2 linked regions of the Homo sapiens genome follow. The gene in region 1 interacts genetically with each later gene. Each region holds a gene or a part of one and is shown in the gene's direction. Other genes may lie near its edges.

Evidence for each region.
Region 2: of FHL3 (region 1) and ZBTB16, changing one enhances a phenotype caused by changing the other (phenotypic enhancement), as found in Homo sapiens cells (one study listed by BioGRID).

What each region holds. Positions count from the first base shown.
Region 1 is NC_000001.11:37,992,307-38,008,144, reverse strand, and holds FHL3 (four and a half LIM domains protein 3), read left to right. Parts: upstream 1-2,630; 5' UTR 2,631-2,788; intron 2,789-8,712; 5' UTR 8,713-8,732; coding exon 8,733-8,888; intron 8,889-8,996; coding exon 8,997-9,171; intron 9,172-10,012; coding exon 10,013-10,182; intron 10,183-10,274; coding exon 10,275-10,461; intron 10,462-10,585; coding exon 10,586-10,740; 3' UTR 10,741-11,375; downstream 11,376-15,838. UniProt on the Homo sapiens protein: Recruited by SOX15 to FOXK1 promoters where it acts as a transcriptional coactivator of FOXK1.
Region 2 is NC_000011.10:114,062,677-114,079,269, forward strand, and holds part of ZBTB16 (zinc finger and BTB domain-containing protein 16), read left to right. Parts: intron 1-534; 5' UTR 535-624; coding exon 625-1,892; intron 1,893-16,593. UniProt on the Homo sapiens protein: Acts as a transcriptional repressor. Transcriptional repression may be mediated through recruitment of histone deacetylases to target promoters. May play a role in myeloid maturation and in the development and/or maintenance of other differentiated tissues.

The sequences.
Region 1 (15,838 bases):
CTGGTCTTAAACTGTTGGGCTCAAGCAATCCTCCTGCCTCAGCCTCCCAAAGTGCTGGGATTACAGGCAAGAGCCACCAAGCCCGGCCAACCATTGGGATTTGTATCCTAGCTTTGCCATTATTACCTGTGTCGCCCTTGCCAGGTTACTTAATCTCTCTGTGCCTCCATTTTCTCATCTTTAAAATGAGGATGAAAATATATATTTAGGCCAGGAATAGTGGCTCATGCCTGTAATCCCAGCACTTTGTGGGGCTGAGGCAAGAGGATTGCTTGAGCCCAGAAGTTCAAGACCAGCCTGGGCAACTTAATAAGACCCCTGCCTTTACAAAAAATTAAAATTAAAATAAATTAGCTCAGTGTGGTGGCCCACACCTGTAGTCCCAGTTACTTGGGAGACTGAGGTAAGAGGATCGCTTGAGCCCAGGAGGTTAAGGTTACAGTGAGCCGTGATTACACCACTGCACTCCAGCCTGGGTGACAGAGCAACACACTGTCTCAAAAACAAACAAATATAGATGCACATATATTTAATAAAGTTATTGAATAATCAGGTATGTCAATATATGTAAAGTGTTCAGGACTGGTGCAAAGAAAGAACTCAGGAAGTACTGGCTCTCATTAAGGCTATTTAGGAGAGATTAGAGCCATGCATCAAGAACAGAGATTCCAATACTCTGCCTTTTATCAGGCCCCTTCTGTACTCACTCATAACCCCTTGCTTTCTGAAGGCTCCCCACCTTTGCCCTCCCGTCCCCCAGAGCTGACCTCCTCTTGGTACCCACTCCACCAAGGCTGAGTAGTCTTCACTGCACTCCCCTGGGCTGGGAGTCTCTTACACCTGCAAGATACATCCCAGAGAGGCTGGGCATGGTCACTCATGCCTGTGGTCCCAGCACTTTGGGAGGCTGGGGCAGGCAGATCAGATCTTGAGGTCAGGAGTTTGAGACCAGCCTGGCCAAGATGGTGAAACCCCGTCTCTACTAAAAATACAAAAAAAAAATTTAGCCGGGCGTGGTGGTGCACACCTGCAGTCCCAGCTACTTGGGAGGCTGAGGCAGAAGAATCGCTTGAACCTGGGAGGTGGAGGTTGTAGTGAGCGGAGAGTGCGCCACTGCACTCCGGCCTGGGCAACAGAGCAAGCCTCCATCTCAAAAAAAAAAAAAAAAAAAAAAAAAAAAAAAATCCCAGAAAAAGGCCCCATCCATGGGCTGGATGCTCACTGCCTGGACTCCAGATAGCAGGTGCCTGTGATCCAAACCGAGGATGTTAGAGGGGCATACATACTGAAGCAGTGTCTGGTATCCATTCATTCATCAGATGTTTATTATGTGCCGGATATTGGAGTAAGTACTGAGAAGGCAGTGGGGAACAAAACGGAGCCCTGCCTTCATGGCTCTTACCATTTAGGCAACAACAGCAATAATAAGCAAGCAATGATTTAATTTTGAAAGGAAACCAGACCTGGTGGGTGACTTGGGACCCAGGAACCCAGGCATGATGCAGAGATGGGACGGAAAGGTTCTCAGGAGCCCCAGCCTGGGAGGGTGTTAGTTCCTCCGTGAGAGCTCTGCTACACCCAGCCTGGGGTGTGGGGAGGCCTCTGTGGGCACCTGAATCTTCACTCTAGATGCTAAGGTTATTCCGGGGTTGATTTGTTGTCTCTTGTTTCCACAAACAGCACAGTAGAGCCTCCTGCCTCCCTCCCTCCCCCACCTCTTCCAGACTGAGGCTATTTATTCCTAGTGACAAGCCTGAGGATCCCAGGGGGGGTGGCCTTAAGGACCTGGAGGGGCCTCGTGTCCCTAGCAGGCGCCAGTCCTCCCTCACGGACACAGGGAGGAAGCCAGAGGCTCAGACACCGCAGAGGTCCCCTCCCCTCTCCTCCACCACCCCTGAGGTGCCCCATCCTCTCACACTCCTCACACCCCACCCTAGAAGCCCAAAGATCATGGGGCCGAGGATTAGGGTCTCCCCCGGGCCTCAAAGGTCAAAACTATTCCTGGGCACTGCGGAAACCCAGGCAAGGCAGGACTTCTCAGTGTCAGGAGGCTGCTGGAAGTGGGGAGGTGGTTACCCCTGTTTTTGCTACTCAAAGTTGTGGAATAAAACCCTTTGGAGGTCAAGGCCCTATGGTGGGGAGGGGTCCTCTCTTCGTCCCATGTTTTCAGAGAACACCTTGGTGCCCGCTGACAGGCTCATGACAGCAGAGTCAAAACGTCCTCCTCCAGGCTGGATTAAGGCCGGGCTGAGTGTCACCCCTGGGGTAAGGTGAAGGGGTGGGGGGATCCGAGGAGGCCAGAGGACTCCCCCAGTGGACCATGGTCTGCGGGGTCTCGTGTCGCCGGCCTGAGATGGAATACAGCAGTCTCCCTCTGGCAGCTGGGGATGGGGGGTGGGAGGGGAGGAGAACAGAGGCTGCGGGGAGGGGACAGGGGCGGGGTCCCGGCCGCTTGAAGGTTGGGAGAGCCAGGTTAGGCCGGGCGGGAGGAGGGGGCCGGGCCGACTGGCGGCCGAAAGGGAGGTGGGGGCGGGGTCTGGCCCCCGCGGCGGGCTGGGGGGCCGGGGGCGGGGTCCGGGCGGGGCGGGCCCGCGCTCACTTCCTCGGGGAGGGGTTGGGGCCGCGCTCCCACTCGCCCACACGGTCCGTCTGCAGTCGGCAGCCTCGCCGGCAGCTCGCTCGGCCCCCGCTTGGCCCGGCCCGCAGGTAGGAGCCGCCGAGGGACGCGGCGCCCGGTTCCCGGCCCCGCCTGCGCCGCGCGCTCCCCGCTCCCGCCGCCCGCTTCGAGGTGAGCGCCCCGCCGACCCCGGCTCCCAGCCCTGGCGGTCCGCCCCCGCGCCCAGGCCGGGGAGCGAAGGGACCCGCGGAGGGCTGAGGCCAGCCGCGGCCCCGGTCCCCTGTACCCGCCGGGCTCTGGCCACGGGTGCCCGGGGCACGCCGAGCCCGGGACAGCGCCCGCCGGGACTGGACCCCTCCGGGCTATCGGGCGGGGCGGGGGCGGGGGCGGCAGCGAGAGTTGGGCGGGGGAGGGGGCTAAGTTTGAAATAGAAAAGCCGGAGAGAGACAGACAGACCGACCGACCAGAAGCGCTGGAGAAACTGAGGTTCTCGGAAAGCCCGGTGGAGCGAGAGACCGAGACAGGCAGGGACTCGAGGCACAGGAGGCTACCGAGACCACTGAAACAAGGACACACCGGGCGTACAGAGTTACTGGTGGACAGACCCGAGGCATGGGGGCCGTCCTAGGCTTTGTGGAGCATTTTCAGAAAAAGCATACGTGGGACCCCAGCGAACACATTCCCTAGGGCCCTTCCCCGGGCCTTGGAGGTGCCCTGAGGCTTGGGCGTCATTGGCCTCATGCTGAATCTGCTCTCTGAGGCCTGCAGAGACGCTCAGAGACTAGAGACAGAGACATTCAGGCGTGCAGAGGTGGCGAAAGAGACTTGGATGCAGAGACAGAGAAAGGGAGGTGGTGGGGATTGAGACATTCAGCCATGTAGACAAGAAGAGACCAAGACTTGAGATCCACAGAGGCATGGGCCCCCTGGGGGACAGCCAGTCAAGATACAGAGCCGTCCAAAACCTAAAGACAGAGACTGAAGTGTGCCCAGACACAGAGATGCTGAGTGAAGCAGAGACAGACACCAGAAACTGAGACTAAGTGGGGGCAGAGAGACCTAGGTGGTCTGACAGCTTCCAGGACAGCCCCTGACTTACCCGGGCCTGAACCATTGGGAGGTGAGGCTGTGGGGAAACAGAAACTCTGAGCCTACCGATCCCCCATGAGGCAGAGGCCCTGAGACAGTAAGTTCGAGATCAAGAAGAGCCCCACGCACACACACAGCCACCAAGACAGCCCCAACTTATTTTTGAACTCAAATCTTGGATGGGCTGCCTCAGCCCTGGGGGACCCAGGGTGAATGAACTGTTCCTCTCATGTCCCCAGAGCAGCTGCGGGATCTTGCTCCCCAACCCCCTTCCCTAAACTTCTCTGACTTCCAGGCCACATGGGGGAGAGCAGAGCTTGGGGTTGGTGCCCGGTAGCAGAGGGTGAGGGTTGAGGGAGTTGGATTTCTCCCCTTAAGTCTCCTGTCAGCTTCTAGAAGGTGGGGGAGGGGTCTGTTCTGATCCTGACTCACAGCTGTGGGACCTGGCCAGGGTCCTCCTGGACAGTGGGCATGTTGGGGGTGGGGGCAGAAGGATTGAATGGTTGGCATGGGGCATTGGAAAGGCTTCTGGGTGTCTTCCAATCACAGGGCTAGCAGCTGAGGAGAAGAGCCAGGCTCTGGTGCATCTCCTGTTCCCCTGCCCTTAAAAACTGACCACCCCCATGTCACCATCCGCTTCATCACCAGGGCAGCATTTTTAGGGAGAGGGAAGAGCTCTGGGCTGGGAGGCAGGGGACCTGGGTCCTGATCGGGACCTTGGGCATGAACCTGCTCTATTCCTGGCCTCCTTGTGCTCAGCTGTAAAATGGGGATGATACTCTGTCCTGCCTGCCTTTTGTGAGATCTGATGAGATTGTGGTGGGCATGGACTTTGTGAGTGGCAAAGCAGCATGCAGGTGTCTACATCCGTGGACCTGCATGAGAGATCTCAAGAGTTAAGCTTACTAGAGTCAGGCTGACCGGACTGAAGCGACCACTTTCCCCACTGGTGTCCTCAGCAAGCCCCATGGGCCTGGGGCCCCCTATTCTCTCCCTGGGCCTATGCTGAGAATGTCCAGGTCAAATTTCAGACCAGGCTGGGCACAGTGGCTCACGCCTGTAACCCCAGCACTTTGGAAGGCTGAGGCCAGAGGATCACTTGAAGCCAGGAGTTCAAGACCACCCTGGGCAACATAGTGAGAACCCCATCTCTACAAAAAATAGAAAAACCTAGCTGGGCATGGTGGCACATGGCTGTAGTCCCATCTACTCAGGAGGCTGAGGCAGGTGGTTTGCTTGAGCCCAGAGTTGTTTTTTTTGTTGTTGTTTTGTTTTGTTTTGAGACAGAGTTTTGCTGTTGTAGCCCAGGCTGGAGTGTAATGACATGATCTTGGCTCACTGCAACCTTCACCTCCTCGGTTCAAGCAATTCTCCTGCCTCAGCCTCCTGAGTAGCTGGGCTTACAGGCGCCCGCCACCATGCCTAGTTAATTTTTGTATTTTTAGTGGAGATGGGTTTTCACCATGTTGGCCAGGCTGGTCTTGAACTCCTGACCTCAGGTGATCCACCGGCCTTAACCTCCCAAAGTGCTGGGATTACAGGTGTGAGCCACCTCACCTGGCTGAGCACAGAAGTTCGAGGCTGCCGTGAGCCATGATCGTGCCACTGCACTCCAGCCCTGGCAACAGAGTGAGACCCCAACTCAAAACAAAAAAAAAAAACAAAAAGGCTGAGCGGACACCAGCTTGGCCAACATGGCGAAACTCTCCATCTCTACTAAAAATACAAAAATTAGCTGGGCATGGTGGTGCCCTCCTGTAATCCCAGCTACTTGGGAGGCTGAGGCAGAAGAATCGCTTGAACCTGGGAGGTGGAGATTGCAGTGAGCCGAGATGGAGTTAACTGCGCTCCAGTCTGGGTGACAGAGTGAGACCCTGTCTCAAAAAAAAAAAAAAAAAAAAAATTGGGCTGGCACTGTGGCTCATGCCTGTAATCCCAGCACTTTGGGAACCCAAGGCAAGAGGATAGCTTGAGCCCAGGAGTTTGAGACCAGCCTGCGCAGCATATTGAGACCCCATCTCTATTTAAAAATTCTAGTCCAGGCAGGGTGTGGTGGTTCATGCCTGTAATCCCAGCACTTTGGGAGGCTGAGGCAGGGAGATCATGAGGTCAGGAGTTCGAGACCATCCTGACTAACACAGTGAAACCCCGTCTCTACTAAAAATACAAAAAATTAGCCGGGCGTGGTAGCAGGTGCCTGTAGTCCCAGCTACTCGGGAGGCTGAGGGAGGAGAATCACTTGAACCCGGGAGGTGGAGGTTGCAGTGAGCCGAGATTGCGCCACTGTACCCCAGCCTGGGCGACAGAGCGAGACTCTGTCTCAAAAAAAAAAAAAAAATTCCAGTCCAGCTGCTTGACCCAGACCTGCCTGTGAAACTGCTATCTGGCCCCAGTATGAGTGAGGGCGCTAATAGTAAAATACTAATAGCTACCATTTTCTGAGTATTTATTATCTGCCAGGTGCTTTACAAGTATCATCACATTTAAGCCTGACAACAAACTTAGGAGGTAGGAAGTGGTAGTATCTCATTTAATTAGATGGGAAAACAGGCTTAGGGATTTGCCCAAGATCACTCAGCCAGTAAGTGCAGGAGCCAGGATTCAAACCTTACAGCTTGAGCTGCTCCATACACCATAGCCAGTTACGCAGTCATTCTGAGCTCCAGGAGGTTCACTGGGAGGTGCCTTGTGAGGGGAGATTGTTGGAGGTGCAGGGTTGTGAGCCATCTGTAGAGGAGCAGTCTCCCCCAAACCCCGCCCCACTGCCGGTCAGGAAGGAATACAAGGCTGGCTCCCTTCAGTCCCCGCAGTCCCCAGCCTTGCCAGGGAAAAGGGCAGGGAGAGGGGTATGGGCAGAGACAGGTGGGCCTTGTTGGTGCCCTTTACTCTGTCCTCACCAGAGCCCAGCTGGATAGACTAGGGCATTGGGGGATTCTGGGAAGGAAATAGAAGCCATGCCCATACCCTATTTGGGTTGCCCTGGTTTCGGAGTGCTGACTGTCTCTCAGGGGGTGGACCCAAGTCTAGCCTGGGCCTGAGAAGGTGGCAGCCGCAGTGGGCCAAGCCAAGAAGGAAGGAAGAGGCCCAGGCACCCCCTGTGGACGCATTCCACCTGTGTGGCCCCCTGCTGCCCCGTGGCTGACAGCCCAGGCAATCCTCAGATGTTGGGCCAGAGGAAACCTGGGCCTGAGTGGCAGGAAGGGGGCTGAGAAAGAGGAGTATCTTCTCTACACCATAGCCCCCAGCCCAGGAGTTCCAGCTCTAAAGACCCTGGCCCCTGGTGGCCTCATGCCCTGGCCTGGAGCGCAAGCTGGCTGTTCTCCCATTGCGCAGAGGCTTGATGTATGGAGAGTCAGGCCTCCAAGCTGGGGGCATCTGCTGGTGCCTGGAGTCTGAACTTCAAGCCAGAGCAGCGCTTGTTGTCAAGAATTTCGCACTGGGGGTGGATGAGAAAAGGAGGACTTCTCCTTCAGCTTGAGCCAGGGCAGGCCCTGGCGACTGCCAGCACTGGAGCCTTGTGGGAGAGTGGGTTGGTGGATTCCTTTGTGTGTCCCTGTAACTTCCCCGGGCTCATCCACAGCTGTGAGAACATCTCCTTCCTATGGGTCCTGGTGGTTCCTCTCCACTACCCCAGGATCCCAGCCCTTAGAGAGCAGCCTTCATGATGGAGGAGAGCAGGGGTGGGAGCTCTGACTTTGGGGCTAGAGACTGGAATCCGGGGCAGCAGAAAGGTCTGGGAACCCCACTTCCCTACCGCTCCACTCCCTAGGCTCCTGTTCCAGAGGCAGCTGTGTGGATGACCTCATCCCACAAACATGCTTTGTTCCTGAGAAAATGGAAAGTGTCTGAGGTTTGGTCGGGGGCTGGGTGTCTCCAGCAGCAGCTCTCAGGGCTCCCCCTTGTCCTACTCCCCACCCAAGATGGGGCCTGATTGGGGAGAAAATGTCTTCAGTGGCTCTTGCTCTCTCTCCTTTCAGCTCCCTAGTCCCAAACCCTGAGAAATCGGAAAAGGTGGGAGAGACCTTCTCTCCCAGAGGCAGTAGGAGGGAAATCATGACCCCAGGGGATGGAAAGATCCTGGGGTTTTGCCAGATGTTAGCAGGAGGTGGCAGGGGGTACACTGCACTCCCAGTCTGTCTCCAGTTCCCCTCTGCCTCCCCCGACACTTCATTTTCCTTTTTTCTCCCCATTGCTGGCAAAACCTGACATCTGGCCATCTGTGCCGCCACAGCTGCTGCAGATGTTACAGGCCAAGGCTGTCCAAGCTGGTGTGACACAGCGGGGGTGGGGGGATGAGGGCAGAGGGTCTAGCTAGGGAAGACTGGCTGTGTCCAGCTTGCAGGATTTCCTTCCTGCTTGAACCTAAGCTGAGCCTCTGAAGTTCCCATTGCTTGGCTGATTCCCCGGGAGGGAAGGCCCAACCTCTCACACTGGCCTCTTCTACCATTCATTAGTCCAGCACCTCTCTAGCATTCCACTGTTTTCTGGATCAGGAGGGGCAGGCACAGCCCATTCCCGTCTCTAAGTTCTGTACTCCAGAGCTCTGGTTAAGGGTTCCTTTATCCATATTCCTAAAGTCCCTTCCTGGGAGTCAGGAGAGGGTGGGAGTACTGCTCATAAGGAGTAGAGTGGGGTGGCTCCCTGCCCCTGCTTCTCCCACGCTGGGGACAGTCGGGACAGTGGAGGCTAGACGCTGGCTGGGACAGGAAATGAGTCACTGACCCAGGAAAAGCCCCCTCCCCCTAGATCTGCTAGGGCCTAGATAAGAAAACAACTTCTGCTTCCTGGTTTTTTTCCTGACCTCTTCCTACCCCGAGTTAAATACAGAAAGAAACATGTGGGATTCCTGGTTTCCCAGAAGCACCCCTTCCCCATCCCCACCTACTCTGAACTGGCATTTCCTATGCCGGGTCTCTTGGCTGTGTTTTGAATGCAGAGGCCTCTTTGCCAGGAGCCAAGCCACAGCCTCTCTGTGTGACCCCAGTTCCACCTTGTGCTCCTAACAGGGTTCTCTCCCCTTGCCACCATGAGCGAGTCATTTGACTGTGCAAAATGCAACGAGTCCCTGTATGGACGCAAGTACATCCAGACAGACAGCGGCCCCTACTGTGTGCCCTGCTATGACAATACCTTTGCCAACACCTGTGCTGAGTGCCAGCAGCTTATCGGGCATGACTCGAGGGTAAGGAGAGGGCCAGGCCAGGCAGGAGGTGGGTGGTGACCAGTGGAAGGGGGCAAAGGATGGGTCCATGAGGCCTGGGTGCCAGTGCCCCTGCTGTGTTCCCCACAGGAGCTGTTCTATGAAGACCGCCATTTCCACGAGGGCTGCTTCCGCTGCTGCCGCTGCCAGCGCTCACTAGCCGATGAACCCTTCACCTGCCAGGACAGTGAGCTGCTCTGCAATGACTGCTACTGCAGTGCGTTTTCCTCGCAGTGCTCCGCTTGTGGGGAGACTGTCATGCCTGGTATGTGTTCAGGGGCTCATCTTGTGTGAGAACTGGCATCTGCGTAGGGTCTTTGCATGTGTCTGTCTGATACATGGAGACTTGGTCTGTGTAAAGACCTGCATACACAGCATGTTTCTGGAAATTTAGTATATACGGGATCTGTTTGCCTGGTATACTCCTGGGGGCTACTATGTACAGGCAGATTGACACATGTGATACATACTTGGGGGCTTAGCATGTGTGAATATCTGCATGTTTAGTACAGGTAGGAACTAGAGGTGTGCTGAGACTGTCATGCTTGTTGCATTGGGTCTTAATGTATGCAGAAGCAGATAAACAGAGGGCTTAACATGTGTGGGGACCTGCATGCCTAATAGAAATGCTGGGACTCAGCACCTATGGAGAATGGTGTGCCGAGGAGATGCGAGGGCTTAGCATGTACCGAACCTGTCATGCCCAGGGCATTAGAACTTTGTGTGGGCAGATACTTACTTGCCTGGTACATGTGGGGTCCCATGTGAGTGCTAAAATCATCACATCTGTTATATGAGGGCTTAGCTCTTAGTGAGACTTCATGACTGTTACATGGAGGCTTGATGTGTGCTGAAATTGTCATCTCTGGGACATATGGGGGCTTAACATAGGCCAAAACCCTCGTGTCTAGCTGGGTCATCATGTCCGGTGTCTGGGGAGAGGTTAGCATGTGTAATATACATAGGGCGGGGGGGTTCTTGCTGCATGTGCACGGACACCACCCTGCTCACGCTGAGAGAGGAGTGGAGACTCCTGGGGAAGTTACAGAGGGTGGCCCTCAGGAGCATGGGACACAACCTCTAAATGGGACCCCTGTTCCCCACAGGGTCCCGGAAGCTGGAATATGGAGGCCAGACATGGCATGAGCACTGCTTCCTGTGCAGTGGCTGTGAACAGCCACTGGGCTCCCGTTCTTTTGTGCCCGACAAGGGTGCTCACTACTGCGTGCCCTGCTATGAGAACAAGTTTGCTCCTCGCTGCGCCCGCTGCAGCAAGGTGGGGGCTGGGCCAGCCAGGTGGGGGTGAGTGAGGCCTGTTGTGGGGTGGGAATCCCCACTCATACCTACTAATGGATGCTGCCCCCACAGACGCTGACACAGGGTGGAGTGACATACCGTGATCAGCCGTGGCATCGAGAATGTCTGGTCTGTACCGGATGCCAGACGCCCCTGGCAGGGCAGCAGTTCACCTCCCGGGATGAAGATCCCTACTGTGTGGCCTGTTTTGGAGAACTCTTTGCACCTAAGTGCAGCAGCTGCAAGCGCCCCATCGTAGGTGGGACAAGGGTCAAAGAACGGAGTGGGTAGGGTGCAGGCAAGGGAGTGGGATGTGGTATTGGGTGAGGTTGAGGGCCGGACCATCCCCACATCTGCATAGCTAACTTCCAGCCTCCCTCCAGGACTCGGTGGAGGCAAGTATGTGTCCTTTGAAGACCGACACTGGCACCACAACTGCTTCTCCTGCGCCCGCTGCTCTACCTCCCTGGTGGGCCAGGGCTTCGTACCGGATGGAGACCAAGTGCTCTGCCAGGGCTGTAGCCAGGCAGGGCCCTAAGCCAGGGCTCCTGGACCCAGGCTTTCCCATACCACGGGCCCAGGACTGTGGCTCCTTTTCTAAACCACCTCTGGGACTCAGCTCCCCCCGCCAAAAAAAATGGGTCTCCTTCTGGGCTCCAGGATTGTCTCCCCACTCCAGCATCCCCAAACTGGTACTCCCTGACCCAGGGCCCCAAACCTGGGCTCTTACAGAGCCTCCATGAGTCAAGCCCCCTCCCCACACCTGGACTCCAGAATTCACCCTCTCCCCTGCAGTCTGGGTTCCCAGACTGAGTCCTCTCCCCAAATCAGGGCTCTAGACCCGAGCCCTCCAAACCTGGACTCTGGGACTTAGGCCCCCTTAAATCTAGACTTCTCTTTATAGGTTTCAGGTCTCCTATGGGTGCCTGGGAAGTCCTTGAAAGTGGACTGTTCTCAGGCTTGACCTGCCCCACCCCATCCCCGCGGTTGAGGCTGTGGGGGCAGCAGATCAGGAGCCCACTGATAAGGGGCCCTAGGGTACAGGGTGCTGCCCAGCAGGTCGCCACCGAGTGTCTTCTCATTTTATTTCAGCTCCATTTTGCCCATAGATGGGCAGAGGGGTGAGATTGGCTCATCCCCCTTCCAGATTCTGCAATAAAGCGGTGTGAGGAAGCAGGGGCCTCCGTGTGTGTGTGTGTGTGTGTGTGTGTGTGTGTGTGTGTGTGTTCAGGGTATAATGGGGAAGGAAGGGTTTTTGCAGACTGGGAGGCTCAGAATCTCTGCTAGACCTCATCCTTGCAGGGTGGGGTGGAGGGGGGCCGGGCCATGGGGTGGGAAGTCTCTCCCCATGAAGGGGATCCCCGCCACAGCTACCCTCCCTCTGGAGCTCGTCCTGCCTCCCTGCTGGCAGAGGGCTTTTTCCCTCATGTAGGGAAGGGAGGGGTTTGGGGGAGGTTCCAGATGAAAGCCAGGGTGGCGGTGGGGTTCCTTAATTGGCTGGTACGAATAGTCTCCTCCGCCAACAGCCCTGCCCAAAGCCCGCAGAGCAAGGACCTGGTTCCGATCCCCAGTCTGGGCCCAGACCCTCTCAGCCCCCTTCCCCCTCTTCCCAAGGATTAGCAAGGGCGGCCCAGGATCCTCTCGCGGCCGCACGTTTTTTGCCAAAAAAGGCAAGGATGCAGCTGCACACGCCGCGGGAACATCTGGATCCGATTCCCGGCATGAATGGGTCACGCCCCGTCCCCCGCCAACAGTGATTCAAGTCAAGGGTGGAGGCGGGAATGAGCGAGGGGGGCTGTCCCCCAAAGTGGGGAGATGGGCGGGGCGACGCTCCCCTCGCCCGCCCGGCGTCCGACGTCCCTTGTCCCTGACCCTGGCTGCCGCGGTCTGGGCTCGGCCGACCGTCCGGCTGTCGGGGCAGGTATGCGCACACAGTGGCGCCCACAGCTGCCTGCAGCGAGGCCCGGCCCTGGGCAGGCGGACCCTCGGCGCCCTGGAGTGGGAGAGCCCCTCCGGCCCGGCGGAAACCGCCAGATTGTATGTATCTCATATTAATTCCTCCCGTCCTGTGGGCGGGCATTATTACTTCCATTACACAGAGGTGGAGACGCCTGCAGTCAGCTGCCCCAAGTCACATAGGTAGTCACTGGTAGATCCTGGACTCTAACCGCTTTCTGAAGCCATGGTTGACATTTTCTTTTCTTTTTTTTTTTTTTATTTTACTTTAAGTTTCAAGATACGTGTGCAGAACGTGTAGGTTTGTTACATAGGTATACGTGTGCACGGTGGTTTGCTGCAACTATTGACCCGCCCTCTTAAGTTCCCTCCCCGACATTTTCAACAAACTTTTACGAATGCCTACCACGTGTGTTTATAATTAATAATTACCACATATGCTTACGGTTTTATTTGTTTCTCTCTCCCACCAGCCTAAGGACTGAGATCCTGCCTGCCTTGCTCCCCGCTCTCGTTCTCAGCTCCCGGCACTTACTATGTGTTCAGTAAATACTTGTTGAGGAAGAGCAGTCCAAGCATAGAAAACAACTGGCGCAAAGGCCTGGAGGCCTGAGAACATACGGTGCTTTGGGGAAGTAGCAAGTAATTCCATTTGGAGGAAGTGCCAGGAGAGTAAAATGGCAGGCAGAGCCCAGGTCCTAAAAAGCCGAATGCCAAGTTGCACAGACCTCACCCTGCAGGAAATGCAGCCTATGGAACTGTTTAAGCAGGGGCCTGTGATGAGCAGAGTTGTAGACAGATCATGCTGGCTGCAGCATGAATAATGGAGTGGAGGGGTAAGATGAGCAGGCTGGTTCGGAGGCTAGTGTAGTGTGGTCCGGGTGAGACATCTTGCAGCAGGTAGCAGCTCGAGTGGAAAAGGCAAGACTTGCTGCCTGGAGTGGGGATGAAGAAACATTTAGGGGCAGGAAGGCATCAGGTTTGAGACACAGTGACTGGAGGATGGTGGTGGTAAGGCGGTCCACCCACCTAACAGGAAGTGAGAGATGTGCAGCTACAAAATTGTTTGATTTATTTCAATACAAACATTTTTCAGACTTAACATCTTAGAAACCCAGACATATAATCAAGGCCAGGCGCAGTGGCTCACGCCTGTCATCCCAGCACTTTGGGAGGCCGAGGCGGGTGGATCACCTGAGGTCAGGAGTTTGAGACCAGCCTGGACAACATGGTGAAGCCTCGCCTCTACTAAAAATACAAAAATTAGCTGGGTGTGGTGGCAGGCATCTGTAATCCCAGCTACTCCGGAGGTTGAGGCAGGAGAATTACTTGAATCCGGAGATGGAAGTTGCAGTGAGCCGAGATAGCACCACTGCAGTCCAGCCTGGGGGACAAGAGCAAAACTCCGTCTTAAAAAAAAAGAAACCCAGACATATAATCAAAGGTGTGTCATTGTTTAATTGACAATTTTTTCTCTCTTCCTTAGTAAAGCATAAAATAATACTGAGTTTTACATTTGATGGCATCTCGTATTCAAGAAATACAGTAGCTCTCCAAGTTTATACCCCCCAAAAAACAAAACAAAACAAAAAACATTTGCTGAGTCTCCCCACTCCCTGAATGGAGATTTCTACTTTACCTCTTTCCTAATGTCCCAGGAAAAGCCCCAGATGAGTTGTGACTGGGTCCTTTCCCTAAGCTTGGCAGTCCTGCTTAAATTTCCGATATACAAATAAGATCCCCATAACACCCTCATGAGTGGGCAAAACACAGGTCACTATTTCCATTTTATATTTATTTATTTATTGAGACAGAGTCTCACTCTATCGCCAGGCTGGAGTGCAGTGGCGCGATCTCGGCTCACTACAACCTCCACCTGCCGGGTTCAAGTGATTCTCCTGCCTCAGCCTCTCAAGTAGCTGGGACTACAGGCGTGCGCCACCATGCCCAGCTAATTTTGTTGTATTTTTAGTAGAGACAGGGGTTTCACCATGTTGGCCAGGATGGTCTTGATCTCTTGACCTCGTGATCTGCCGCCTCGGCCTCCCAAAGTGCTGGGATTACAGGCGTGAGCCACCATGCCCAGCCTCCGTTTTTTCAAACTTTTTTTTTCTTTTTTGAGACAGGGTGTCACCCAGGCTTGAAGATTATAGCTCACTGTAACCTCAAACCCCTGGGCTCAAGTGATCCTCCCGCCTCAGCCTCCCAGGTAGCTGGGAGTACGGGCAAATGCCAGCAAGCCCAGCTAATTTTCTTATTTTTTGTAGAGATGAGGTCTCGCTATGTTGCCCAGACTGTTCTAGAACTCCTGGCTTTAAGCGAAATTCCCAGCTTGGCCTCCCAAAGTGCTGGGATTACAGGCGTGAGCCACTGCACCCAGCCTGCTTTCAAACTTTTAAAAACAAAAAGTAATGCATGTTTACTGTAGAAAAATTGGGCTGGGTGCGGTGGCTCACGCCTATAATCCCAGCACTTTGGGAGGCCAAGGCAGGAGGATTGCTTGAGCTCAGGAGTTGCAGACAAGCCTGGGCACCACTGTGAGACCTCATCTCTAGTAAAAATTTTTAAAAAATTACAGCGGGTCTGGTGGCTCATGCCTATAATCCCAGCATTTTGGGAGGCCAAGGCAGGAAGATCGCTTGAGTCCAGGAGTTTGAGACCAGCCTGGGCAACACGGCAAAAAACCCCATCTCTACAAAAAATACAAAAATTAGCAGGGTGTAGTGGCGCACATCTATAGTCCCAGCTACTCAGGAGGCTGAAGTGGGAGGATAGCTTTAGCCCAGGAGGTCGAGGCTGCAGTGAGCCAAGATTGTGCCACTGTACTCCAGCTTGGCAAGACCCTGTCTCAAAAAAAAAAGAAAAACCTTGGCTTGGTGTGGTAGCTCATGCCTGTAATTCCAGCATTTTGGGAGGCCAAGGTGGGCGGATCACCCTGAGGGCAGGAGTTCAAGACCAGCCTGGCCAACATAGCAAAACCCCATCTCTGCTAAAAATACAAAAATTAGCTGGGCATGGTGCCACGCACCTGTAATCCCAGCTACTAGGGAGACTGAGGCAGAATTGCTTGAACCCAGGAGGTAGAGGTTGCAGTGAGCCAAGATCGTGCCACTGCACTCCAGCTTGGATGACACAGAAAGACCCTGTCTCAAAAAAAAACAAAAAACAAAAAACCTCGCAGTTTTTTGGTGTGCGGTGGCTCACACCTGTAATCCCAGCATTTTGGGAGGCCAAGGCAGGCAGATCACCCGGAGGTCAGGAGTTCAGGACCAGCCTGGCCAACATAGTGAAAGCCCGTCTCTACTAAAAATACAAAAACTAGCCAGGTGTGGTGGCAGTCACCTGTAATCCCAGCTACTCAGGAGGCTGAGGCAGGAGAATCGCTTGAACACAGGAGGTAGAGGTTGCCGTGAGCTGAGATCGCGCCACTGCACTCCAGCCTGGCGACAGAGCGAGACTCCCAAAACAAAACTTTAAATGTGGCTTTTGTTGCGTGGGAAAAAAATAAAAAATTAACCAGGGTGGTGGCACCCACCTGTGGGGGCCACAGGGGTGGAGGCTGCAGTGAGCCATGATTATGCCACTGCACTCCAGCCTGGGGCAACAGAGAGAGACCCTATCAAAAAAAAAAAGAAAAAGAAAAAAAAGAAAAAAGTGAACAATAGGTAAATTACTAATAA
Region 2 (16,593 bases), on another chromosome or scaffold:
CATGGCTACAGGCTCCTGGCCTCCAATGAGTTTGACTCTGCTTCTGGGGCTCCTGTAGTGAGGCAGAGTTTGGAAAAACTGTTTAAAGATAAGGCTTGACATCCAGGGGGCTGGCGTGAAGCTGACAAGGAAGGGGCTAAAGTCTTGCTAATTTTAAGTAAGTGCACTTCATCATAATGAATGTTGGCCTTGCCTAGGGAGCCCCTACTCTCAGACACAGAGAAAGCTGAGGACTTATAGGACTTCACTACAATTTTCATTTCACTTCATCTAACAGATGTCATAGAGTAGTGAATTAGGCATCTGCTGTGGCAGAACCTTCTTTTTACTCTCAGCATCCCTGGCTTGAAAGGCAGATTTGTAGATTTCTAGGAAGCTACTTCAATTAAAATCTCTAAGATCCTCTTGCTAAGGGCTTGGCAACAGGGAGGAGGGGGCATGTTGTAGTGGTTGAATTCTTACTTTTAGGGACACTGATGAATTTGTCTTTTGTTCTCTCATCTCTTTTGCTTCTTCCCCTCTTCTTTCTCCTAGCCTCCTCTATTGGCCCAGGAAGCCCACCCAGCCCCGCCACGCAGAGCCCAGAAGGAAAGAAAGCCTCATGCCTGAGCCGAGGGGAGCACCATGGATCTGACAAAAATGGGCATGATCCAGCTGCAGAACCCTAGCCACCCCACGGGGCTACTGTGCAAGGCCAACCAGATGCGGCTGGCCGGGACTTTGTGCGATGTGGTCATCATGGTGGACAGCCAGGAGTTCCACGCCCACCGGACGGTGCTGGCCTGCACCAGCAAGATGTTTGAGATCCTCTTCCACCGCAATAGTCAACACTATACTTTGGACTTCCTCTCGCCAAAGACCTTCCAGCAGATTCTGGAGTATGCATATACAGCCACGCTGCAAGCCAAGGCGGAGGACCTGGATGACCTGCTGTATGCGGCCGAGATCCTGGAGATCGAGTACCTGGAGGAACAGTGCCTGAAGATGCTGGAGACCATCCAGGCCTCAGACGACAATGACACGGAGGCCACCATGGCCGATGGCGGGGCCGAGGAAGAAGAGGACCGCAAGGCTCGGTACCTCAAGAACATCTTCATCTCGAAGCATTCCAGCGAGGAGAGTGGGTATGCCAGTGTGGCTGGACAGAGCCTCCCTGGGCCCATGGTGGACCAGAGCCCTTCAGTCTCCACTTCATTTGGTCTTTCAGCCATGAGTCCCACCAAGGCTGCAGTGGACAGTTTGATGACCATAGGACAGTCTCTCCTGCAGGGAACTCTTCAGCCACCTGCAGGGCCCGAGGAGCCAACTCTGGCTGGGGGTGGGCGGCACCCTGGGGTGGCTGAGGTGAAGACGGAGATGATGCAGGTGGATGAGGTGCCCAGCCAGGACAGCCCTGGGGCAGCCGAGTCCAGCATCTCAGGAGGGATGGGGGACAAGGTTGAGGAAAGAGGCAAAGAGGGGCCTGGGACCCCGACTCGAAGCAGCGTCATCACCAGTGCTAGGGAGCTACACTATGGGCGAGAGGAGAGTGCCGAGCAGGTGCCACCCCCAGCTGAGGCTGGCCAGGCCCCCACTGGCCGACCTGAGCACCCAGCACCCCCGCCTGAGAAGCATCTGGGCATCTACTCCGTGTTGCCCAACCACAAGGCTGACGCTGTATTGAGCATGCCGTCTTCCGTGACCTCTGGCCTCCACGTGCAGCCTGCCCTGGCTGTCTCCATGGACTTCAGCACCTATGGGGGGCTGCTGCCCCAGGGCTTCATCCAGAGGGAGCTGTTCAGCAAGCTGGGGGAGCTGGCTGTGGGCATGAAGTCAGAGAGCCGGACCATCGGAGAGCAGTGCAGCGTGTGTGGGGTCGAGCTTCCTGATAACGAGGCTGTGGAGCAGCACAGGTAGGCCCCGCTCCAGCCCCGCACCTGATGTAGGACTTGAGGCCCTCACACCCCTCCTTCACACCCTGGCTGCTCCCAAGTTAGGGGCCTGGCTCCCCTGTCTTGGCAATTTGTGAAAAAACCAGAACACTTCTTCTAAAGTTCTGGCGGGGAGGGGAGCAGGTTTTTTAAAGTGTAGTGAGGGGGCCTAGGATCTTTCCAAAAAGCACCAGGGGACACTCATGGGCGCAGCTTCTTAATAGGCCCTTCCCTTTGTTTTTTGCTTTTGGGCCCCTGTTTGTTTTTTCGGCTGTTTGGTCTGTTCTCCTTTGCTTGGAGTGACTGATAAAATGGAGAGAAGGAGAAAAGGAGTGGGATGAGGGTCTCTTGGGCCCTGCATCTGACCATGTTACTAGGTTTCAGGTCCTCGGGTTCCCATGCAGTGGTCCCTGTGAAGACAGCCTGTCCCTTTCTGCAGCTTGGGAGAATGGGAGGGTCTGGGGGCTGCTTAAGCCACAAGAGCAGCTGCAGGTTCTGAACCTTATTCCTGGTGAAAGTTAATCTCCTTGCTCTGTCTCCCTTCTCATTCTCTGATCCTGCACATGCATTTAGGGGGAATTGATTTAAATGCAAGGGGAAAGGATGGGTATAAGAGTCTTGGTCTTGCAGCCTGTGAAGTCTCATTCTTATCCCATCTCTGCTCACACTGAACTAAATGCCGCTTCAGGCTAGCATTGGCTTCCCTCCGGCTTCCGTTTCCTTCTCTATGAAATAACCATTCATTGAGCTCTTATGACATGTTTGGTTCAGTACTAAGCACTTTCCATGAGTTGCATTTTCATTACAACAGCCCTTTGAGATAGGTAATGTCCTTCTTTTTTTTTTGGATGTGAAGTTTCGCTCTCCTTGCCCAGGCTGGAGTGCAATGGTGTGATCTCTGCTCACCGCAACCTCTGCATCCCGGGTTAAGGTGATTCTCCTGCCTCAGCCTCCCGAGTAGCTCGGATTACAGGCACGCACCACCATACCTGGCTAATTTTGAATTTTTAGTAGAGACGGGCTTTCACCGTGTTGGTCAGGATGGTCTCGAACTCCCGACCTCAGGTGATCGGCCTGCTTCGGCCTCCCAAAGTGCTGGATTACAGGTATGAGCCACCGTGTCCAGCTGGTAATGTCCTTCTTTTACATGGAACAATACTAAGGCTCAGATGTCAAGTCTCTTTTCTAGGGTCACATAGATAGTAAGAGGCAGAGCTGGATTCAAATTTAGGTCCTTACCCCCTGGTACTTTGCTGCCTCTTGGAGTCACTTAGACTTGAAGAGGATCATGTCTATGGAACAGAGCGTTTTGAAGATTGCTTATAGGAAGTGGAGTAAATAACAGGGGGGATAAGTAGCGAGTTTGTTTTTTTTTTCCTTGCTTCTGTCATAAACCACGTGCCCATCATTTTATCCTCTAGTTTCTGGGTCAGATGAATGGAGTCAAGAAATCCAGCTTTCTGTTGTCATTGACGACAGCATTTGGCTGCATACCCTGTGGTCTGCTGTTTTGCTGATCTTGGGTGGATTCTCCACTTCCTCCCCCTTCACCCCCATTCCCCTGTTGCTCGTTCAGGTACGGGGGATGTGAGTGAGAGGGGTTGGGGTGGGGATATCTGGAAGTTGATCTCATCACCCCTAGCCGGAATCTGCTCTGACCCTGCCTCCTCGACAGCTCAGAGGCTTAACTTGTGGAAAGTGTGGCAGAGCTAAACGTAGCCGACTTTTTCCAGTGGGTGCGAAAAATAACCGCCACTAAGGTGTGTCTTCTTGATGCTTGTACCGCTCAGAAATAGACTGAGGTTGTGTTTGTTTTTGCTCAAACTTTCCTAAAGAGGAAACCCGCTCCCCAAAGTTGACCAGATAGATGTATCATCTTTCCGGATGTGAATTATTTCGGCTGTGTGCTATGAGAACTGGGTATGGTGGGAAGTAATTGTTTTTCTGGCTCTCATCAGGTCCTGGTTCCTGGTTGCTTTTCTTTACCCGAGAGGGCCACAAAAGATACCACTCTCCTGAGACTTCCAAGTTCCCCTTCAGCAAGACCCTCATTCCTCTGGGGAGAGAGGGAGAGTTGGCCATGTTATATTCGAAAGAGCCTGGGTATTGGAATTGGCCATATTTAGTGGTGAGAGCCTGTGATACTTATTTAACCTTTCTGGGCCTTGTTTCACTCACTACATTTTTTTTTTTTTTTTTTTTTGAGACGGAGTCTCGCTCTGTCACCGGGCTGGAGTGCAATGGCGTGATCTCAGCTCACTGCAGTCTCCACCTCCCGGGTTCAAGCGATTCTCCTGCCTCAGCCTCCTGAGTAGCTGGGACTACAGGCACCTGTCACCCCGCCCAGCTAATTTTTTGTATTTTTAGTAGAGACAGGGTTTCACCATGTTGGCCAGAATGGTCTCGATCTCTTGACCTTGCGATCCATCCACCTCGGCCTCCCAAAGTGCTGGGATTACAGCTGTGAGCCACCCCGCCCGGCCTTCACTCACTTCTTAAAATGGAGACGGTCAACAGGGTTGGTGCTGAATTAATGAAGTAAGATCCAGAAATCACTAGAGCTGTGATGGGCACATAGTCACCGCAGCGGTGGAGAACTGACCATCTGTCCCTTGTGTTGTTTAGGCCTCATCTCTGCATGGTCCTCATTGGCTCTGAGTTCTAGTGTGTAGTGTCCACAGTGCCACCCTCCATGAGGGTTGTGTTGACTGTGAGGTGGTGCAGAGAATGTCCCTGTCCTTGTGAGCATATGACAGCAAGACACTGGCCCTGGAATCCTCCGTGTCACATGTGGGCTGCTGACAGGAAGAATGTGCTTTTGTTGTTGTTGTTGTTGTTGAGGCAGAGTCTTACTCTGTCGCCCAGGCTGCAGTGCAGTGGCATGATCTTGGCTCACTGCAACCTCTACTTCCCGGGTTCAAGTGATTCTCCTGCCTCAGCCTCCTGAGCAGCTGGGACTACAGATGTGTACCACCATGCCCGACTAATTTTTGTATTTTTAGTAGAGATGGGGTTTCACCATGTTGGTCAGGCTGGCCTGGAACTCCTGGCCTTAAGTGATCCACCTGTCTCGGCCTCCCATAGTGCTGGGATTATAGGTGTGTGCCACCCTGCTGGGCCGAGAATGTGCTTTTGACTGAGGGTGGAAAGTCAGCAGCTGCAGCCCAAGAAGTTAGAGCCAGGGGCAGTGCCTTTGATGGGAAGCTTGGGGGTCTAAAGAAATCAGAAAGGGGAGAAAATAATCCTGCGTGTGCTCAGCCCTCACTCAGATCAACAGCCCCTCGGGTCCCAGCTAGATGTACTTTGTAGAAGGCTTTTTTTCTCCCCCTCACCCTCAAAACTCCAGGATTAATGTGCTATTCCCTTTTTTCTACTGTTCTCTGTCTCCCCCCAACCCATCAGCAGTCTGAGAAATGCTATGGTGGAAAAAAAAAAACAACAGCCCTATAACCAGTACAAACAAAAAGCCAAGACAAAAAAAAAAAAAAAATCAGAAGGGGAGATTTTGAGGCCAGGAAGCCATGGCATTCACTGGAAATATATCAGTGATAAAATAACAGGCTACAGGGTTTATTTTATTTTATTTTTAAGTCAATAGGCCTGAGTGTTGGTAAAGACTAGATACCCAGCAGTCCTTCTTGCATTTCTTCTTGGGGTGGGGGGGCAGAAGGGAATGGAGAGGAAATGAAGGCGGATTGCTGGTAAGTGAGGCAGGAAGGCAGGGAGTTTATTATGGAATGTCATCGGTAAGTTTCCCCATGATTTGATCCCAAGCTGGTGTGGAGTGAAGGGTAAGCTGTTGGCTCAACAGATAGTGAGAATCAAACTTAGTGGAGTTGTAGAGCCTGTTTCCTGCAGCGGACAGCAAGATGTACAAGCCGTCCACTGCAGGAATGACGTGCTGTAAAAGGGATGCAGTGTCAAGTGTAGTCATGGATGGGTGGGAAGACCAGACAAAGGCATCCAATGGGACTGACTTACCTAAACAAACCAGAAGGAAGTCAGAACAGTGGGAAGATCTGATAGATAAGCAGTATTCTGCAGGCAGATGAAGGAGCAAGCTTTGGGCCCCCAAATCTTCACCAGTGCATCCACATTACAGAGGATAATGCCTGAGGGAGGGGAAGATCATCTCAGGATTCTGGAACACTGGGCCCTCCCTTTCTTATTCCAAAAGGCTGGAGCAGTTCTGCATGTAGGCTTCTCTGGAAATGGTCTAGGAACCAGCTCATCCAGGCCAGGAGCACCTGATCATTCTCAGAGTTACGTACATATGCGATAAGATTGCAGGGAACAGTATAGTTCTATAGACTTAAGTGTGAACATAGTCCTCATTTATAGTCCCTAGTCTCCCATGGCTCACGCAGCTTGGTCTTTATGTGTTTCTGAATTTAGTGCTGCAGAGGCACAATGGGGTCTGGTTTCTGGATCTTATACAGACAAGCACTTAGGTCAGCTGCAGTGGATGTCCTGCACAGACACCGTCGCAACTCTTGCCTGGTTCCTTTTTGTTTTTGGAGATGGAGTCTCGCTCTGTCTCCCAGGCTGGAGTGCAGTGGCGCGATCTCAGCTCACTGCAAGCTCTGCCTCCCAGGTTCACGCTATTCTCCTGCCTCAGCCTCCCAAGTAGTTGGGACTACAGGCACCCGCCACCACGCCCGGCTAATTTTTTGTATTTTTAGTAGAGACAGGGTTTCACCGTGTTAGCCAGTATGGTCTCGATCTCCTGAACTCGTGATCCACCTGCCTCGGCCTCCCAAAGTGCTGGGATTACAGGTGTGAGCCACCACGCCCGGCCTATTGCCTGGTTCTTGAAGGGATTCTCAGGAACCACAGGGAATGTCTGAGCCAGCTTTCTGGATCCGTGTGTACAGCCCTTCCCAGAGGCTTTGTGGAGCCAGCTGTACGGTGCATGAGCTTTGTGGCTAAGATATCAGAGTTCTGCCTGGCCCTTGGCCTTGGTCTCTCTCAGATGGTCAGCTGCTCTGTTTTTAGTGGTTGATCATGTAGAAGGCCAACAGGTGTTGACCTTGGTTTAGGCTACTTTTGGGATTTTTGAGGTTTCCTGAGACTCTTGGTTTTCTTTCATCATCCCGTCCAGAACCTCTGATGTCAAACTAAATTCTGTTTGGAAAAGGGTATGCTGTAGAATAATGATAGCCACAGCAATGATATTAATAATACCTTTTATCGGTTGCAGCATTTTCTTCTTTGCAAAGCACCTCTAATGACTTTATCTCTCTTGCCCTCACAGCCTTCCTTGAGTGGGTACAGGTCCATAATCCCATATCTGTGATAATGAAGTCTGAAAAGCTCTGAAAACTAAAAAGTTTGCAGTAAACTCATTTAGTGGCAAAACCTGATCTGAACTGATGTGAGGCTATATTTATCCTGCTTAGTTTGAATATTCATATGTTTTGCTGCAAAAATATTAATGTGTTTGATTACAGAGTGCTGCCCTAGACTCTGCTGGGGCTGTTAAACACGATAGGTGTCAGAGTACCTTTCTTTTTTTTTTTTTTTTTTTTTTTTTGAGACGGAGTCTCGCTCTGTCGCCCAGGTCGGACTGCGGACTGCAGTGGCGCAATCTCGGCTCACTGCAAGCTCCGCTTCCCGGGTTCACGCCATTCTCCTGCCTCAGCCTCCCGAGTAGCTGGGACTACAGGCGCCCGCCACCGCGCCCGGCTAATTTTTTGTATTTTTAGTAGAGACGGGGTTTCACCTTGTTAGCCAGGATGGTCTCGATCTCCTGACCTCATGATCCACCCGCCTCGGCCTCCCAAAGTGCTGGGATTACAGGCGTGAGCCACCGCGCCCGGCCCAGAGTACCTTTCTAAAGTCTGAACAGTTTTGGTCGTTGAAGCACCTGAAGGTTTTGGATAAGGGATTATGAACGATTATCATTCTCTATTGACAAATGAGGAAAATGAGATTTGGAGCAAGTAAGTGACTTCCCATGGTCACACAGCTATAAATGGGTAGAACCAGGCACTCAGCTTGCCTTCTAATTCACAGTCCTGGGCGCTCTGCACCAGGCCATATAAGAACATGAGCATTGCTCTTCTGGGTCAAATCCATCTGACCTAGTCTTTGGTTGCCATCACCATGCCTAAGATACCACCATTGGAGGCTACAACCATCTTCCTTGACGTCAATCCTAAAGGTCAGGTGTAGCTTCTCTTAGTAGCTATTTATGGCTGCCTTGTCATTCACAGATTTGCCAAAATCCTTTTTGAATCCATTTCCATTTCCAGGAAGTATCCTTTTTAGGGGTGATGAATGACAAGTTTATAATCTCCTGGGCTCCTGGAAATCTGGTCTTTTGGAGAGAGGTTGTTGGTTGTGAAGATAGGAAGATGGCAGAAGGCTTTGTAGTGGTGAGGCCAGGTCTAGACCTAGCTCTGCGTTTTTCAGCTCTGTCACCATTGACATCGTTTTTTTCATCGTGAGCCTTAACTTCTTCATTTTTAAAACTAGGCACTTCAGTGAGCTCTTTCTGGATTGTTGCGCTCTTTAAAAAATTCTTTTATTCTTTGTGTACCCACTTATATCTTCATGAAGTCCTTTTGGTTAATTGAATTTTGCTGTTTTGGAATCTGGATTGGCAGTTCAGCCAGTTAAGTAGGGGGTCAGTTTGATTTGATTCTGTGTGTTCTGACTTTTTTTTTTTTTTTAAAATACTTTAACCTGCTTAGGGTTACTGAGCCATCTGGGATCTAGACTGAACTCTTGGAACTTTTGAAGATGATTTCCTTTATTTTATTTTCAATGGAGGAAAGTTGCCCACTCTTTCATCTCAGTGAGAAGTCCCATTTTAATTTGCCATCACTATTGGATGGAGCCGCTAATTGCTGGGAGGGAGAAAGCTATAGTTTAGCAACACGTTTTCCTCCTGCTCGTTCTAGGAAAACTATTATGAATCTTTAAAATAGTGATTATCCTAAACTGTTAAAATCAAATTCTATTCACAGCTCTTTGATTTCTTGCTAATTCAGGAGAGAAACTTTTCCAATCACTTTAATTTTTTTTATTAATTTAAAGCAAGCCCTGCTGAAAGCCCAAGTATATATGACTTAGAGTCTTACTAAATGAATACAGGTGTGCCTCAGTTTGTCCATTGGAGGGTTTCTGAATTTTCCATAACTAAAGATTTTCTATTCTGTTTTGGCTGGGTGTGTGGGGTGAAAGCTCTTACTCTCTGGCAGTTATTTAAGTAGTAAGAAATTTGCTACAACTCTTCCCCACCCCCACGTTTTACAGATAGGAAATGAGCACTTTGACTGTCCAGGTCAGACTTCTGATTTTGCTACTTACTAACTGTGACAGTGGTTGTGTTACTTAACTTCTGTGTGCCTGTTTGCTCATTTGTGAAACAGAAATAATAGTAGTACCTACTTCATTGGGTTGTTATAAGGATTCATCAGAAAATATTTATCCTGTGTGAGGAACGGTGGCACAAAGTAAGTGCTCCATAAGTGTTTGCTAGGGTATTTTTCTTGTCATTGTGTGAAGTAGGTCATGCTAGCCATGCAGGGTGAAAAATGTGTTCATGTTGGTCCAGATCCTGCTTTCTCCCTGAGACCGTTCTTCCGCATAGGCGTCAATCCGTACAGTGCTGTAAAACTGCTGCCTCGGGCACCTCATGTTTGGGGCTGAGACATTGCTTCTGCGTCTTCCCCAGAAGCTGATCTCTTGTACTGTGGTGGCCAGGGTACTCTTTGTCCCATTGACCTGAGGCCTGGTGAGTCATTCCAGTTCTCGTTTAAATTTAGCCGGGCAGCGCTCCACTGCCATCGGGTCCAAATGCCGGGGAGGCTCACTGATGCGGTGTCCTGTTGCCTGTGCACGTGGCCAGGCGTGCACATCACTGTGCTTATGAGAGAGATGAAGAGCACAGATACCACCTTACTGATGGGGGTCCTGGGGCTGGGCTTGTGGGTGTTGGGGGTTCCAGAGCTCCTTCCCTTTCCTGCCTGTCAGTGCAGGATGCTTCTAAAATGTGGACTCAGCAGACATTGTTTTGAGTGCTTGCTACATGTCAGATTCTGTGCTAAGTGCACTCACAGCCAGCATCTCTGTAAGACCTCTAGCTGTCCTGTAAGGTGGGTATCAGTTTCACATTCTCAGATGGGCGGAGAGAAGCCCAAGAGGTTAGTGGACTTTTCTCTAGTAAAGAGTTGTACAGGCCGGGCGCAGTGGCTCATGCCTGTAATCCCAGCACTTTGGGAGGCCGAGGCGGGCGGATCACGAGGTCAGGAGATCGAGACCATCCTGGCTAACACAGTGAAACCCCGTCTCTACTAAAAATACAAAAAATTAGCCGGGCGTGGTGGGGGGCGCCTGTAGTCCCAGCTACTCGGGAGGCTGAGGCAGGAGAATGGCGTGAACCCGGGAGGCAGAGCTTGCAGTGAGCCGAGATCATGCCACTCACTACACTCCAGCCTGGGCAAAGGAGTGAGACTGTCTCAAAAAAAAAAAAAAAAAAAAAAGAGTTGTACCAGGATTTATGTTCAGGTCTTCTGGCTCCATGCTCTCTGCAGCTGGGTGACCAGGGGGCTCATGGCTTCACCAGCTCTGGCCTCCTCAGTTCCTCTGGTGGCTTCTTGCGAGGAGGAAGGTTACTGCAGAGGGTTCAGCTCTTTAGGGGCCCAGGCCGCATGGATCCAAGGACTAGTACGTCATCTCTTACCAACACAGAGAGATCAGCTTCTAGTGATAGAGGCCTTTTATGCTGACTTGAAAAACAGAAAAAGAGAGAAAAAAGAAACCCATTTACAAAAATAAAAATCCCATGCTGTTAATTTCATGCCAGCATAATCAGAAATTCCCCTTTCTACTGTTTCCCCTTAAAAGCCCCGGTGTCCTTATTATGCTGGTGCAGTCTGGAAAAACTATGGTTGGGTTTTGCCTACGTGAGGCTTATCTCTGCAGCTGCAAGGAGGGGATCCGGTACTTTATTGTCAGCATGGAAACTTCCGCTAAATACTTAGAAAAACCTTAATTCTAAATTCCTAGCTCACTTTCAACTGTGTCCTCGGGACCTGATTTTCTTCGGTGTGAACAGATTGTGTTCAGCATTGCAGTAGAAAGGGTCCAAGTTAGGTAAGAGAAAGGACTTCCTGAGACACTGGGGTGTTACTGAGAAAGTTGTTAGAAGACTGTCACAGACATTTTGATGAAGGGGGGACATTCTGGGCCATTTGAAGTGGTTTTTAGAGTTCTTTCCTCTTTAGGGCCATTCGGTTCCCCCAGAAATAAGAAGAAAAGACATATACACGCACATAAACCACCACCACCAGGCTTGCTGAGAACAAGTCAAATGTGCCACCAAACCATCGTCTTAGTGGGAGATGGGGTGGCACTGCAGGGGCAGAAAGACTGACGTCTGATGGACTTGGGTTTGAATACTAGTGCTCCATGGTGAATTTGGGCAAATGACTTCACCTCTGTGAAGCAGCAGTATCCTCTTCTGTGAAGTGAGGTTAGCCCCTACCTCTCAATGTGGTTTTTAAAGTATGTTAATGAGATCACTTGTAACCTAAAGCACACAGAGTGTGAGGCCACCTCCCTACTTCCTGCTTCTCTCATGACCCCAGCCTGACAAGGGAGCCGCTGAGCCCCCTGCCACCCTCACCCGGCGTTGTGCTCTAAGTGGATTAGCTCAGCGTTGTGATCTTAATGCCATTAGGCCTGTTGGCACGGCTCTCCTTGCCATAGTGAGAAGCAGATGTGGCCGACCATAATGGCCCTTAGCGTGATCCATCGGGCCCACAGTGCTGGGGCAACCATTATTAGTGTTAATTTGGGGGAGCTTTTTATGGTAGCTGGGGGAAATGTGGAGGGATTGTTGGAAATTTATTTAAGCTGTTCAGCAGGTTAGGTGCTGCTGGGGTCTACTATGGCAAAACCCTCAGCTCCCCCAACCCATCTCTTTAAGGAACGTCCCTCCCCAACACCGAAGCCCAGGCCTGATTACTTCCAGAGTTGGAGAGACAACTTAGCAGGCTCTTGTTTCTTGCCGATGTACCTTATTAGTAGCACCTGGCATCATAACCCACTAATGGGAACCAGTGCTCTCCTCCTGCGTGGCCAGTGACAAGTAGCCCTGTCAGCCGGAGCTCGCCGTGCGAGGAAGTTCCTATTAGCTTTATGGTCAGGAGAACTTGTCCTGTTCAGGAAATGAATGTTGCCGCTAAAGGTCCGCGGCCCTGACCCTGGCGGCATAACCTGTGCGGGCCGGGGAGACCCTGTGCAGGATGCTTGGGATTTCAGCCCCTCTCTGGTTCTTGTCATATGTAAAGAGGGAATCATTGTGGTATGTTGCAGCCTTGAACTTTTGATTTATGCAGTGAGGGCGACTTAACCGTTTCCATGCCTGGACGGCTGTGCAGTGACAGAGCCGTGTTGTGAGCGTATGTGCCTAGGTACATGTGTGTGTGGGGTGGTCAAGGGGAAGGAGAGACCCCCACGTGCTAGCAGGGGCTGTTGCTGGGAGTGGGTGGATTTCATGGGAGGATTCCTTTTCTTTTTTCTTTTTCTTGCATTCTTGCAGCATCTAAATTTCCTGCGATTGTTGGCTGCAAAGTGGTAAGAAGCTGGAGAGCATTGTGTCTGGAATTGAACCTGGGTTCGAATTAATCTTCTGTCTCTTAGAGGCTGTGTGACCGTGGCAAGATTCCTCACCACTCACTTCCTCATCTGTGAGATGAAGTTAATAACTTCTGATTCATACTGGTGGTAGAGCAGTGTTGTTAAGTAGGTGATGTATAGAGAATACATGGCCCAGCGTCCGGCCAGTGGTGTGGCCTCAGGTTGTATACTTGAAAGGATGTGTATACTTCAGTATTTTTTCCATTGTAAAATTAAGGGTTTTTTTTCTTTTTTTCTTGAGACAGAGTCCTACTTTGTTGCCCAGGCTTGAGTGCAGTGGCGCGATCTCAGCTCACTGCAACTTCCGCCTCCTGGGTCCAAGTGATTCTCGTGCCTCAGCCTCCCAAGTACCTGGGACCACAGGGGTGCACCACCACACCTGGCTAATTTTTGTATATATATATATATATATTTAGTAGAGATGGGGTTTCGCCATGTTGGCCAGGCTGGTCTTGAACTCCCGACCTCAGGTGATCTGCCTGTCTCAGCCTCCTAAAGTGCTGGGATTATAGGTGTGAGCCACTGCGCCTGGCCTAAGTTTTTAAAAATTAAAAAGAATGGCATAGTGCTTTTTTGCTCTTTAACAGATCAAGACCAAAAGTTTTCCCCCCATCATAGCCCAAAGTCCTAAAGAAAGGCTACTTAAGTTGTTCGTTTTCTTTTGTTTCTCCCATGAGTAATGTTTCTAAGTGTGATTTTTGCAGAGAACAGCAGTGTCTGACCTCATTCTTGAGGGGAACTTTTCTGCCTGCCTCTTCTTGAGAAAAAATGTTTGTGAGTTGTCTGGCAAATGGATGCGTTACTTTTGCTGCTGTTGCTGCCGCTGCCGTTTTAAAGGCCCCTGGTGACAAAGGAGTGAACTGCACTTTCGGGGAAAGCATGCCGGAATCTGGCCCAGAAAAGAGGGGCCGCTGGGGGAAGGGTTTGGAGATGACGCCTCCTCAGGAACTTTAAAAGAAATCTGTCCATCTGTCTCTGGCATTTATGGCATCGTTGACAGCAGTTCAAGGAAAAATAAAAATAAGTTCTTATCTGATTGCGGGGCTGATTGCAAAGCCGAAGGACTAGAGTGGCCAGCGAGTCGGGCGGCTGGATCTGGAGTTTTGGAGAAAGGGCCACTGGCTCATTTCTGGGCACGCACGCTCACGGAGGCAAGTTCTCACCTCCTCGTGGGCTTCTCTTCACTTTACGTGGAAAAACTGTGTACGTCTCAAATTAAAAGCAGCTCTTGCCCCGCTTAGAGCCGGTGAAAGCTGCTTCGAAGGCGTTTGTAGAGTAGGGATTGGAAATGTTCAATGCAAAAGTTAAATCGTGACAGTTGTCCCCTAAATGATCTGCTAAATTAAGGATCCGCTAACATTTGTGAGTCTACCTCCCTGCATTCCCCCCACCCCCACCCCCGCCCCCTTGGCAGAAGGGATAAAGATGGTACCTAAAAACAATGTGAAGCGGCTGCTAAATCGAGTGACTCTAAAAACATTTTTCTTTCCTTGAAGTTCAGTGTGGAAAACCAGACTGGACTTGTCAGGGATGCAGACCTATATAGGGCCCATGTGCCTGGCCCCTTTCCTCACTTTCTAGCACAATGGTTTTCATTGCCACCTCTCCCGCGCCTTTCCCCCCTTCATAATTATCCACTATTTTACTTTCTGTGTCCTGACAGCTACAAGAGTAGTTTTTGTTTTTTTGAGCTGAGTAGCTGCTAAATATTCCCCAGCAGCCAGATTCAACGGCTGGGGGGGAGAATAGGCCAAACCTTGGCATCCCCTGTTGCAAAAGTGAAAAATATTTCTGTTTGCAGTTAATTTTAGTGGCAAGCAGATCATGTTAACTGGATGTAATTGCTTCCAGATATGGCCGAGGGTTTTGTGTGTTGAGATGAAGGGTCTGGTAAGTGCTTACTTCCTGTGTAAATTAGCCTATTCCATTCAGTCTTTCATTCTGGCCAGCCCTGGATTCTGTCATTCTGCTCCCATTTTCCCCCTCCCCAGCCTGCAGCCTGGTGTGAGAAGCCGCTTGCTATGTTCCTCTAAGTGTAATTCTTTTGTCACTTGGAGCCACTCTCCTCTTGGTTCTTGATGTGAGTTTGCCCTTAAATAATGAGAAGGGTTTGAAAAGATGCCACCTGGACCCCAGGCCACCTCCCGCCTCTTTCCCAGCAAAGGCAGATCTGAAGAGCATCTCCTGGTCATGGGGGTTGCATCTTGGAACCCAGAACTCCTTGTTTTCTATGCATTTTTTTTTCCTACTGCCCTCTGACCCCCGACTCTCACCTGGGAGAACACCTTCTCTTTCTCTCAATTAGTCCGACTCCTCCTCAGCCTGAACTAAGCACGTTCCAGTGGGTCCGAAATCTCAGAAAAAATGAAACGGCTGTTGCGCAGAGGAGAAGGTTGTGGCCACAGAAAGGAGTTGCCTCATCAGACGTGAAGCCGCCACCTTGCCTTGCAAAGCAGGCTGCACCTCCTGACACACCTGCCCCTCCCTGCAAGAAAGGGAGGGGAAATCCCACCCAAGAGAACCTTCTCCAGGTTCCTGTGGGTTTCCAGGGTTGCAACTGAAGAAAAGTGTTAAGATTCATGTTCTCCTAAATTCTGCTTTTGTCCTGTGGCCAGTCCCACATTCTTAGTGCTATTTGCATAAGAGGTTGCTGTTTATCTTCCTATATCAGCCCCACTGATAACCCCTGTGGTCTGTTTAACAACCTATGAGGAGTAGATTACTTGATAAATGCCAGTTTTTCCAATATGCAAAGATAAACTGTTGGGGTCAGGGTGAGGGGTGGTGTGTTATGAAGGAGGGGACAGGTGGGGAGCCAGGACCCTCTTTTAGTGGGCTGGAGAAGTGTGAAAGAGCCTGATGAAAGAAAACAGGTAGCTTGTCACATACAACAGCTGCATTTATCATACGGTTGATCAGCTTCCTGCCCTCACCTACTTTTCTCCTCCTTCATGTGGACATGCAGAGTCTCTGAGAACATTTCATCAAGTGGGTTGCCTATGCCCACATTAATACAAGATGGGAAAGGGTGGAGGTTATCTTTGCTTTTTAAGTTCCCATCTTTTTCTCCCTTGGTCGTCTCCCACCCCTACAAGTTGTTGGCTGGTAAGCAATTGATGCTCAGAAAAATGATGTTCATCTGAAATCTTAAATGAGTGGACTTTTTCTACCTTCCCTGACTTTGCAGGTGCTTCTTGAAGAGCCAAGGAGAAAAGAAAACTTCTGACCTCATCACCTAGTCAATAAGCTGTCTGAGAAACAAACAAAAGAGTTTAGACTGGCTGCTAAAGCTAGGAACCCAGCTGATAGCTTTGTTTTGATGTCCTTGTAATGTTTGCGGATCGCAGAGGGTGCTATTTAGAGCAGGGGGCATCTACTGGGACAGACTCACTGGGAAGTTGAAACAGCTAGCTCAAAGTCCAAGAGATGCTAAAGATAGTGAAATACAGCCCAGGAATTGAGGGGGAGGGGGTTCCTCACTCAAGAAGGAGACTTTCTAGGAGGGGGCGGGCGTGGTATTTTCTAGGGACAGTATGGAATGAAGGGAAGAAGGTTGGCTTTAGAAGGAGGCACCCTGTGGGAGGCTGAGACAGGTGGGTCACCTGAGGTCAGGAGTTTGAGACCAGCCTGGCCAACATGGTGAAACCCAGTCTCTACTAAAAATACAAAAATTAGCTGGGTGGCAGGTGCCTGTAATCCCAGCTAGTCGGGGGAGGCTGAGGCAGGAAAATCGCTTGGGATTACAGGTGCCTGTAATCCCAGCTAGTCGGGAGAGGCTGAGGCAGGAAAATTGCTTGAAGGAGGCGGAGGTTGCAGTGAGCCCAGATCCTGCCGTTGCACTCCAGCCCAAGACTTTGTCTCATTAAAAAAAAAAAAAGAAGAAGAAGAAGAAGGAGGCACCCTGGATGAAGACTCAGGCTCCAGAATTTACTATCTGTATGTCTTGGGCAAGTGGCTTAGCTTCTCTGAGCCCCTGTTTACTTTTCTTTTGAAAATGACCACCTTGTCCATGGTAATGAGGATAAAAAACGTG